Homo sapiens: one gene and its partner. The protein of the gene in region 1 interacts with the protein of each later gene in a biochemical or structural test. Each region holds a gene or a part of one and is shown in the gene's direction. Other genes may lie near its edges.

Evidence for each region.
Region 2: the proteins of UBE3A (region 1) and ACTBL2 form a complex in vitro, tested with the Homo sapiens proteins (2 studies listed by BioGRID).

Annotation. Positions count from the first base shown.
Region 1 is NC_000015.10:25,333,200-25,338,029, reverse strand, and holds the end of UBE3A (ubiquitin-protein ligase E3A), read left to right. Parts: 3' UTR 1-4,302; downstream 4,303-4,830. UniProt on the Homo sapiens protein: E3 ubiquitin-protein ligase which accepts ubiquitin from an E2 ubiquitin-conjugating enzyme in the form of a thioester and transfers it to its substrates.
Region 2 is NC_000005.10:57,479,812-57,487,422, reverse strand, and holds ACTBL2 (beta-actin-like protein 2), read left to right. Parts: upstream 1-4,611; 5' UTR 4,612-4,715; coding exon 4,716-5,846; 3' UTR 5,847-7,405; downstream 7,406-7,611. UniProt on the Homo sapiens protein: Actins are highly conserved proteins that are involved in various types of cell motility and are ubiquitously expressed in all eukaryotic cells.

The DNA of each region.
Region 1 (4,830 bases):
AATCATACAGTAAGCTGACCTGGAAATGAATGAAACTATTACTCCTAAGAATTACATTGTATAGCCCCACAGATTAAATTTAATTAATTAATTCAAAACATGTTAAACGTTACTTTCATGTACTATGGAAAAGTACAAGTAGGTTTACATTACTGATTTCCAGAAGTAAGTAGTTTCCCCTTTCCTAGTCTTCTGTGTATGTGATGTTGTTAATTTCTTTTATTGCATTATAAAATAAAAGGATTATGTATTTTTAACTAAGGTGAGACATTGATATATCCTTTTGCTACAAGCTATAGCTAATGTGCTGAGCTTGTGCCTTGGTGATTGATTGATTGATTGACTGATTGTTTTAACTGATTACTGTAGATCAACCTGATGATTTGTTTGTTTGAAATTGGCAGGAAAAATGCAGCTTTCAAATCATTGGGGGGAGAAAAAGGATGTCTTTCAGGATTATTTTAATTAATTTTTTTCATAATTGAGACAGAACTGTTTGTTATGTACCATAATGCTAAATAAAACTGTGGCACTTTTCACCATAATTTAATTTAGTGGAAAAAGAAGACAATGCTTTCCATATTGTGATAAGGTAACATGGGGTTTTTCTGGGCCAGCCTTTAGAACACTGTTAGGGTACATACGCTACCTTGATGAAAGGGACCTTCGTGCAACTGTAGTCATCTTAAAGGCTTCTCATCCACTGTGCTTCTTAATGTGTAATTAAAGTGAGGAGAAATTAAATACTCTGAGGGCGTTTTATATAATAAATTCGTGAAGAAATGTGTGCTCTTCAGTTCTCAAGTTTTATTATTATGGTATTTATTAAAGTTCTACAATTGTAATAACGTATCCATATGACAAGTTTTAAAGTGGTAATTGAAATAGGTTATCAGATATAGAGTTGTTCACATCAAGTAGACTTTTAACAGAGTCAGAATGAACCTACCCTTAAAATTTTAGAGAAAAAAAATCGTCGGTTGCACAGAATAGCTGCTCTAGCTTGCTTAATTATGCCGGGCATGTTGTCACTCCTCTTACTTTTGCTGCCTTTTCATTACTATTTAATGGAATGTCCCTGAACAATAAGGAAGAGCAAAACATAGACATTTTGACTACAGTGGATACTTCCTCTACCCCAAATGTTATGTTATAAAAGTACTTTTTTTGCCCAGGTACTCTATTATATATTTTGGTTTTCTTTGAATTAGACCTCAATCTCCAGGAAGCTCTGGAGGGAAAAAAAGGAACCATAAACTAAAGTAACTGGTTTTCCAAATAAATGTAAACTTTTTTAACCTTTTATTATTATAGAACATTTCAAACATACATAAAACATGAAAACAGCCTGCAGCCAAACTTTTCTGGACCTTGGCAGCTCCAGCAAATGAGCTGGTCATCCTAACCCTGGTTTCCTGAGACAACTACTTTTGGGGATGCTTGCTTGTATAGGGAGATGATAGATAGATAGATACATATCAAAAAGAAACTTGAAAAAGGCTTCGAACAGAACTTGCCGATGTTACTCATCCCTCCTCGGTACAGACATTCTGTTAGAACAGATGGTTGTAATGGGGCAGCATCACTCCCTATTCCCATTAAAAACATGACCATTCTGAGATTTCAGGCCCCTTCGAGGAATTTTTCTCAAGAATTCCATACAAACTGTCAGAGGAAGAAATGTCGTCCCAAGACTAGTCCCTGTGTAGTCTTGATCCCTTTACCTGCTTACTGTAATTTTTTTTCTCTGACTTTCCGCCAGTGTCTAAGGGCCATCTGTACCCCTCCCACCCTTCCATGAGCCACTGTATAATCCAAAAACACACCTTCCATTTGCTCCCTCACTTGTCTCCTTTTACCTCAACAGTGTTAGTGTGTAAAGAATTGCCTGGGGAGGGTAGAGGGTTTTACAAGTACAGAGTCCCAAGTCTTTTCTCCCCTCCCCGTTAGTGGGTTGGCATTTATTAATAGGCACTGCAAGATTTTGATGCAGGTGTGGGGTAGATATCACTGTGAAAGGCTACTAATGCATGGTAGTTTCACCGAAAGTACAGTCTTCAAGGATCCTTATAATCTCCTCATTGCCAAAATCAGTAACATCTATAACCTTGACAACACCCTAGCTTGGGCTGTTGCTTCTCTGGCTACTTGTTTTTCCATCCCAGTTTACCCAGATTTTAGATGGATACTCCTCCAATTCTGCTTAAAGTCCTTACCTGTTCTTGCCCAGTTCCCTCTAGTCAACCTCAGTCACTCCCAAAGATTCTTCCCCAATCCCATATCTTTTGCTCAGACCTCTGTCTCTGGGATTTCTTTGTTACCTCATAGTCAGTAGTCCTAAAAACAAAATTCTTCATCTTGCATCTCTATCGACCGACCATTCTTTGTTTCTTTTTAAGAAATGTAACCTTCACCCCAATCATCAAAATCTCTCATTCCTCAATTGTCACAGGTTGTCACTTCTTTCCCCCTAAACCTCTCCCATCATTCCTTCCTTCTTTATACTGCCCTTACAGGTCCTGATCCTCTGACTCACCCGGACATTCTTAGCAGCTGCCTAATTTCACTCCCTGACTCTCATCTCCCTCTTCCAATCCTTTTCATTGTGCTAGAACACTATCTTGCTAATTTTAATATCCTCTGCATTCAGTGCCTCCACAGATTGCCCCCTCACTGACCTTTCCAATTTGGCCTTGTGTTACACACTTTCCTCGCTGCATTCCTACCCAGCATCTTCACTTGTCATATTTCTCAAATACTCTTCATGACCAGATATTTAAAGTACCTCATCCATGAAGACTTCATCAACCCCCAAAGTGCCTCCAATGCTTCCGTGGTAGCACAGCATAATGGGGTACATTTCTTAGTTGAACAGTGAGGAGTCACTGGGATTCTTACAGAGTGTCTTAGGGTCTCCTCTTGATACTCTTTCCACATTTCAGTTAAGGAATTTTCTTACATCTTTTTTTCTTCTAATAACCTTTGCCTGGAGTGTAAGTAAATTCATGATAGAGACTGTCATTTTTAAAAAAAAAAACAAACCATTTTGCCTTTCACATGTTATTACCTCCATCTTTCTGTTATCTTGTCAGTGTTGCCACCTAAATGATTGAAAATGACCGAGCATGCAGTAGAATGTAGTGAAGTTTCCTATTTCATCCATTTTTTGCATAAGTGCATTGGTATCTGTATATCCATCTGCCCAAGCACCAGTTGTTGAAAAGACTATTATTTCCCCATGAATGGTCCTGGTACCCTTGTCAAAGAACAGTTGACCATAAATATAAGACTTTCTGGATTCTCAGTCTTACTCCATTGCCCTATATGTCTGTCGTTATACCAGCACCGCACTGTCTTGATGGCTGTAGCTTGGTAGTAAGTTTAGATTTGGGATGTGCAAGTCCTCCATTTTTTTTTTTTTTTTCCCCAAAATCATTTTGTCTGTTTTGGGTCCCTTGCATTGCATATGAATTTTTATATGATCATTGTGTCAATTCCTGCAAAACAGCTGGGATCTTGATAGGGATTTAGTTGAATTGGTAGATAAATTTGAGAAATAACTGCTATTTTAATGGTGTTAGGTTTTCTGTTCCATGACTGTGGGATGTCTTTGCATTTGCTTAGGTCTTTATTTCAGTGATGTTTTAGAGATTTCAGTGTGCAAGTCTTGACGTCTTTAATTTTTTTCTAAGTATTTTACTGATGCCACTTTAATTATATGATTATTTTCTAATTTTTATTTTTGTATTCATCACTGGTGTTAGAAATAAAATTAATTTTTGTATATTGATTTTGTATATTGTAGCTTTTCTAAAATTCTTTTTTTGTCACTTAGTATTTTTTGCATATGAGATCATGCATCTGTGAACAGAAATACTTTTACTTCTTCCTTTCCAGTCTAGATTCCTATTATTTCATTTTCTTGCCTTAGTGTGCTGGCTAGCACCTCCAGTACAATATTGGATAGAAGTGACAAGAGCAGACATCTTTTTCTTGTTCCTGATTTTAAGGGGAAAGCATTCAGTCTTTCACCATTGAGTATGATGTTAGCTAGCTGTGGGTTTGCTTCAAGTTGAGGAAATTCTTTTATTAAACCTAGTTTACTGAGTGTTTTTTAATCAAAAAAAAAAAAAGGAGGGGCTGTGGGTTTTGTTAAATGCTTCTTCTGTATCAAGATTTTCATGTTGTTTTGTCCTTTATTAATATGTTGTATTAATGGACTTTTGTATATTGAATTAACTTTGCATTCCTGGGATAATCTCAGTTGTCCATGCTACATAAACCTTGTTCTATGCTGCTGGATTTGGTTTGCTAGTATTTTGTTTAGAATGTTTGCATCTATATTCATAAGGAATATTGGTCTGTAGTTTTCATATTATATATCTGTCCAGTTTGGGGATGAGAGTCATACTCCTGACAGAATGAATTGGGAGCTTTCCCTGTTCTTAAACCTACTGAGGTATTTTTTAAGTGAACTACTTGGAGACCTTCACCTGTGATCTTCAGATGCTGGGGGACACAGGGATGGTACCTGACTCTGAAAAGGCTCTCAGGGTAAGACGTGTCTGAACTGGCCTGTGGCAGTTAACTAAAGAGTACTCCTACCAATAATGGAGTCAAGATGTATGTTTCCCATAGGCCACGCTGGTCACTGAAAGAGATGGGCTATGAGCCATCTTGAAAACTACCCTGCACAAATGGACTGCCGGCCTGGAGCCAGGCACCCTGCAGCTGAGTGCCATATAATGTTGAAGCTGTTGAGGGAGGAGAGGTTGGAAGCTGCCAGCTTAGAGAATCTCAGCTGTGGTTTCCAGCAGGGTGTATTCCAGG
Region 2 (7,611 bases), on another chromosome or scaffold:
TAAGGGATTTAGCGTAGAGACTGGCACATACTACATGATCCGTAATCACTATTTTTATTGTTATCCCCTTCACCTTTCAGGATCAGAACACAACATGATGCTTATCTGTGTTGGATGATATATGGTTCCCATCAGTAACGGCTGAACTGTGAATATTGATGCTTCCGATTTTACAACTGTTTCTTCTCCCCTTTCCTTAGAATCAAGGCATTTCCAAAGGTTCATCCACCACACACAGGAATCTGTTCTTCCTCTTAACAACTTTGTTTACAGGTCAATTGAAATAGCCAAAAGCTGATCTATGGCATATTTTAAAAGTTAGTTAGGAAGAAGTGCCATAAAATCTACGTTAGGCCCTTTATCCATCGGGGGGAGCGCTATTGCCCTGTGGAGTGAAAGCTGGTTTTGTTCACAGACAGTGGGCTCACACCAGATAGGGGCTGGGAGCTGTGGTCAACTGCACCAATGAAAAGATTCTTATGCTAATATTTTCCTTCCAAATGCATCCTGGAACTGGTCAAGACGTACCTCACCAAAGCCACTTTTTCCTCCTTTCTGCCCATGCCTGCCTCAGGAAATAGGTGAGTCAGGTTTTACTTGAGGAAGTGTTTGTTGTATTTCTGATTTTTCATGCCATTTTTTACATAGTTCTATATATTCAAACAAACAGAAAATCACAATAAGCTCTATCAGTAATTATTATTGGTGGATTTACTATTTGTAAGAAATATTAAAGCCATATGTTGAGACTTCTCCAGAGAGAAGTAACGGTAATTATCTTTACCATTTTATCTCTCTTTTCCAGAGAGATAAACATGGTATCTTACAAACTGCAAATAATCTCCAGAGAGATTATTTGGTATCGTAAGATACCATGTTTAAGCCATTTCATCAATATGAAATATAAACCTTAGGCAGTATTTAACCACAAAATAAATAAGCTTTTTAACTTTTAAGAAGTGGTCAGCTATATCTAGCTATGAATGAACAGATGAGTATATAATGAAAACAAATCACACTGCTTACAACATTCATGTATCTATTTCTGAAACACATTACAAATCTCCACTAAGAGCAGAGTACAGTTGAAAGAGATTCTCAGAGCATCACCACACTAGAGAGGTAGACGTGTGCAAAATCAGCCAAGGATAGAAGGAAAGAGGGTGTGGTACACAAGGAAGGAACCAAGTGAAGACAGAGAGGCAGGCAGCTGACCTCCATGTACTAAATTGCATCCCTAGGGGGGAGGCTGAACGAGGCCTCATTAAAATGCATAATCTCAGCAGTTCAGTTAAACAGATGAGAGCCTAGACAGGAGATGATCACTAAGACAGGGCCTCCATGACCCATGGGTAAGAGCCTCTTCTTAGATCTCATGTACTACGGAGAGAAAGCAACACCCAATTCTGGAGTTCCTCTTCCTTCCACATGCCTGTGAAGATTCAGACTCTTGTTGTAAGCCTCTAAACTCTTGCTGATTCTGTGTAGAGACCTAGTTCCAAATACATAGTTGATTCTCTGATTTCATCCAAGTTGTTGGTGCTGCTGTAATACTGCCTCCGTTGGCTGCTGGCAGCCTCCTAGTTCCAAACACATAATTGATTCTCTGGTTTCATCCAAGCTGTGATGCTCATGCCTGCAATATTACCTCCACTGGCCAGTGACAGCCTCCTGCCCATCCTCTGAGACTCAGCCCAGGGGTCATCTCCTTTGGCCTCTCCTTCTCTTTGCCCTGACCTCAGGTTCAGGGGCCCCTCATTCCACCTCTATGTCTCCCTGAGCTCCTTCTCTCATCTCCCGTGTTGTATACCTGTTATCTGTGTATTTGGGAGTGACATTCAAGATCTTTAACAACTGGAACAGCGCTGGCAGAGCCCTATCAGAACATAAGCCGGCTGTATCATACCAGTGCCAAACGGCCACCTGTCGGCCTGGGGTAAGGTGACTTTCACCCACAAGACAGTGAACTCTTTAAAAATAGGGCTGTGTTTTATTCATTGATATATCACCAGTGCCCAGAACATAGGAGATGTTTAATAAATGTTTGCGGATTGCTTGAAAAGTCTAAGGTTGACAAAGACAAGGCAAGGAGACACGGTAGCTTCCACCAGTTGTCTTCATATTTAATGCCCATACTTAAACCTCACTCTAGTTTCGTGTATCTGCATGATAGTCAAACTAGGCAAAATGTAAAAGAAAAAGAATATTCTGGGCTTCCATGAGTGAACCTTGAAGGGCCCTAAAGGTTTAGGTAATTAATTAAACATTTGTAAATTCTGGTCAGTTACAAAGTCTGTTACCTCCAAGAACAGTACTCCCTACTCACAGCTTCCAGAGCCCAGTATTTGTAAACCCATCTTTCTATGTTTTACTCAACACAAATTCTTACTACTTTTTAAAAATTTAACCAACTCAACAGATGACATTTTTAATGGCTGTTGAATTGTGATAAGCACCTCTTGCATTATTGAGAGTTAATTAGAAGAGCATAAGCTTATTTTAAGAATACATAACTGATGAAATTTGCTCCTGGGACACCGGAATTAAAGCAGGCTAGACAGTCTCTAGCAAAATCACACATCAGCCACACTCTCAAGGCATCAGTTATGCTGTGTGGACTCAGTACCAAATATCCCTTAGTTGAAGGTGATTCTAAGGACAGCACTCTAGTAAGTGTAGGATCTAAGGCTGCACTTGGTACTATGTGGGCTCCTCCACTAACATTTCCACCAACTTGGCTTTGTTTTATATTCCAGACCGGAGCATTCATAAATGGGGACTTGTGCTAAATACAATGTGTATTTCATTTTTTCCATTTTGTAAAATGTGCATGTAGTTTGTTATGGGATTTTAAAAAATTCCCAGAAGCACCATCCTATAGCAATAAAATGTTGTTTTAATCAAAAGCTTGGTTGTACTACATAACAAGGAAGTTCATAAAACCATTCAGTGTGAAGGTTTTTAACACTGTTGAAGAAGGAATTTTGCAGTTACAGAAAAGATTAAAGGAAAGGACTGTTTTGGTGAGCCCTAAAGCAAAACCATGGATCTTGTGATGAAACATACATTCTGCCATGACTGATTGTCACCAGAAAGGTTTTGAAGGCATATTACAGCACTGGATAAAATAAATCTATATCAAGCTATAGACAAAGAAGAGGGCTGGATGCTCACAGCTTGATGCTACACCATGACTCTCCAAGAGGCTCACTGGGCAAAGACTCAGGTTAGTTCTCCTGGCCTTGAGCTGGAGGGTGTTTTTTGTCCAGTAAATAGGGGCTGTGCTACCTCTTACAAAGCAAGCTTTATTGGGTAAATGAATGAATGATGAACCCAAATAAAGATTATTTTGGAGAACTCAGATGTAGACATGGAAAATTTCTTTGCTTTACAAGAGCTCACAAAGATAATTATATTCTATTCGCCTAACACATAGGGGAGCAGAAGTAATGAGCTTTCTTAAATGCTATTTCTCTGTAACACATTGCTGATGTCCTACATTTTACCATCATACACATCTTTTCAGGTAGTCTGTATTTCTATATGAAACATGGAACCCAAACAAATTGTTGCTATGAAGTGATCAGGGTGTAATATATCTTGAAATGGAAGGAAAGCTAGTATAATTCTAATTGTATAGATTTTAATAACTACATAGAGGTTTAATGTTATAATATAGTATATGTATCTTGAAGATCAAAATGTTTTAAGGATTAGTTTAAATATATAATTTTTCAAATTTGTCTTATCACTTCATTTTGTCCATTGTTGCAGAACTCAAGAGTTGTTGCAAATAAATAAATTTTTATAACCTGCATCTTAATAAATCATGCAAAATAGTTGACATTCAGTCATTATACAATTAACATGGACCCAATGAACCTGGTTCTATGAACAATGTCTAGACACAGTAAATGTTTAATGAAATTTGGTTGTTAGAAATTTATATCAGAAAAAAGTATCTATATGGGTTAACTTTAGCAATCATTCTATTCCTTTCGCTTGATCTCTGATGGATTAGAAGTCTATTAAATATCTCTACATTTTGCTTGACACAAGTGCATTGTAATTACAGCCATCAGGCCATCCTTAGCCATTTATTATTTTCATTTACTAAAACAGTCTCTACGATGATGACACCCTGTGGGATTAGGAATCTAATGGAAACAAAAATCTTGAAAAAGTGAAGATTGCAGGGTAAGACCCCTCATCAGAACAGTATCTTAAGAATGAAAAGGTAAGCTAGTGTAGGAAAAGTGAATCCTCAGGGACGCTAAGGAGGGAGCCTTCCTCCCAGCAGTGTTGCCATACCTAGCACCAGCTTTCTTTCATCTTGCTTTTATATCCCCCACTGCATCATCATAGTTATCTAGAGACCTCACCAGGCAGGCTGACGGTCATGTGTGGGTTGCCTAATTACAGGAACCTGAGATTTGACCACTTGGCAGCCAATTTTCTCTTTATGTAGAAAGATCTAATTGTTTATGTAATCATCACCATCATTAATACCTCAGAGATGACCTCATCCAGAAATGCTGGGAACTGGTGGAGTAGGACATGGGCGGAGTCAGTGTGTTCCTTTAAATACCTGTGGTCCCGGTGCAGCCTCCCGTGTCTGAAAGCATTTCTGGAGTGTTTTAGGCCTGTTCACTTTCTCTTACTCACTGTCTATTCACTTGTCCTGTTCACTCGTCTGGAAGATCTCAGCCAGCACCATGACTGACAATGAGCTGTCTGCCTTGGTAGTGGATAATGGGTCAGGGATGTGCAAGGCAGGCTTTGGTGGTGACGATGCCCCCCGGGCTGTGTTCCCCTCCATGATAGGGCGTCCTCGACACCAGGGCGTTATGGTAGGCATGGGCCAGAAGGACTGCTACGTGGGAGATGAGGCTCAGAGCAAGAGAGGCGTCCTGACCCTGAAGTATCCTATCGAGCATGGAGTGGTCACCAACTGGGACGATATGGAAAAGATCTGGTACCACACATTCTACAATGAGCTCCGTGTGGCACCAGATGAGCATCCCATCCTCCTCACCGAGGCACCCCTGAACCCCAAGATCAACCGGGAAAAGATGACTCAGATCATGTTCGAGGCTTTCAACACACCAGCCATGTATGTCGCCATCCAGGCTGTGCTGTCCCTCTATGCCTCAGGACGGACCACAGGCATCGTGATGGATTCTGGGGATGGGGTCACTCACATCGTGCCCATCTATGAAGGTTATGCCCTGCCTCATGCCATTCTACGCCTGGATCTGGCAGGGAGAGACCTGACTGATTACCTCATGAAGATCCTGACAGAGCGAGGCTATAACTTCACCACCACTGCTGAGCGGGAGATTGTGCGAGATGTCAAAGAGAAGCTGTGCTACGTAGCCCTGGACTTTGAGCAGGAGATGGTCAGGGCAGCCGCATCCTCCTCACCGGAACGGAGCTATGAACTTCCTGATGGGCAGGTGATCACCATTGGGAATGAACGCTTCCGATGCCCTGAAGCCATTTTCCAGCCTTCCTTTCTGGGCATTGAGTCCAGTGGGATCCATGAGACAACCTTCAACTCTATCATGAAGTGCGATGTGGATATTCGCAAGGATCTCTATGCCAACACCGTGTTATCTGGAGGGAGCACCATGTACCCAGGCATTGCTGACAGGATGCAGAAAGAAATCATAACCCTGGCACCCAGCACCATGAAAATCAAGATCATAGCTCCCCCAGAGCGGAAGTATTCTGTTTGGATTGGGGGCTCCATCCTTGCCAGCCTGTCCACATTCCAGCAGATGTGGATCAGTAAGCAGGAATATGATGAGGCTGGTCCTCCTATCGTTCACAGAAAATGTTTCTGAATGGGCTTCCATATTAGTGGGCTTACATTTTCCCTTTTCCTAGGTCACAGTGATGGTACTGCTTTTATCCGCTTTCAGTAGAATCGAGGTAAATACGTCACTCTTCCTAGTGTAAACCAGCAAACCCATCTCTCCATCCAAGTAACCTGGGCTCTTACCCAGATAACCACATCCGGTTCTCCATCAAGTGAAGGTGAATTCTAATACCATATTCCTTTTTCTTTGCCTATACTGTTCAAAGATAGGTAGGCCAGCTTAAATACATATAAGTGACAAGGAGTAAAATCACGAGAAATGTCATTTCAGAATGGATAACTATAATTATCAAGCTTTAAAACTTAGTTCTCGCTAAAATATTTAACAAGAACAGGCTGTATAAACTTGTTTAAAAAAAAAAGGTGCGTATGCATTTAGCAGCCGTGTCTTACTAGTTAAGTATCTTTGTTTTGTTTACTTCTTTGTATGGAGATAATGAATTATAAAGTTCAATAATATCCATATATACATAAGCACCAGGGAAATAAAATATATTGTGAAATATGCTGATGTATCTAGCTATCTGAACAGCTAATGTGAATTTCTTTACTCCCAAAAGTCATCGTTGTACTAGGTACATATTTTAATTGTTTCCCTTACTAAATAAGCATAATGAGACAGCCACCATTCCATTAATGTTTATAAATCATCTAAATTTTCAGCTCATAGTGGAGTTCTGCTGGTCAAATTATATTTTAATATCTTTCTTACTGAACCTTCTCATACCAAAACTACAGACAATGTCTAATTCTTAAGAGAGATAGATATTATAATATCAAATTAATGTCATTATGGTACAATTTGACAGAGGTAATTTTATTTCTATTTCTTAGTGTAATAGCACATCTTAAATAATTTCTGTAGACCAGGATTACAGATACTTCTCTTGTGCAAGGATTTCACTGTGGGAAAATATAGCTGCAGCATCTTTATTAATTATACATTTTACTACCAGTATACTAACACAGTTTTATCCTTGGAAAGCTTTTAGAATAATTCTACTTTATTATGTCCAGTAACTAGCAATACTTATTTATGCAAAGTGTCTCTGAGATACTAACATCTTTGAAAATATCAATGTATGTTCCTATAATGTCTAAAATATTTTAGTTACTCCAGTGATGATTTATTAACCAATTTTAAGTACCAGTATGTTTATTCCAATCTATGCAGTGATTTCTGAATATTTGGATATCAGCATTATTTGTATTTTTCAGGGTAATTTCTGAAAATTTAAAATATTTATTTGGATTGCTTATTCAGGCATTATAAGGTACTCTGGAGGAAGGAATCACTTCTCTTTTTTTCTTAGTTGGGAAACTTGTACTTATGTTATAAATCTTTAAAATGGAATCAGTAAGAATTTTTTGTTTAAGGTAATACTTTTCAAATAATTTGATTATTCCTTATTGGCTTTATCTGACAACATAATCTTTAAAATGCATGTAACCAAAATTAATCTCCAAAAACACTTTATTTTATATAACTTGCTTTCAGTACATTAAAATTGCTTCATACTTGTATACTTAGATTTCCTGTTATTTCTCCTCAACCATTCCCTTAGAATTAGAGAATGATCCAGATAGCATCTCTTTTTATATGTGTGACCTATTCATCTGTATGTTACAATTTTGCACCTCATACATTTAATCATGTAAACATTAAAAGGCAAATTTTAAAAAAAGGATAGCTAGCCATTTAACATTATATAGATGTCTCATAATCTAAA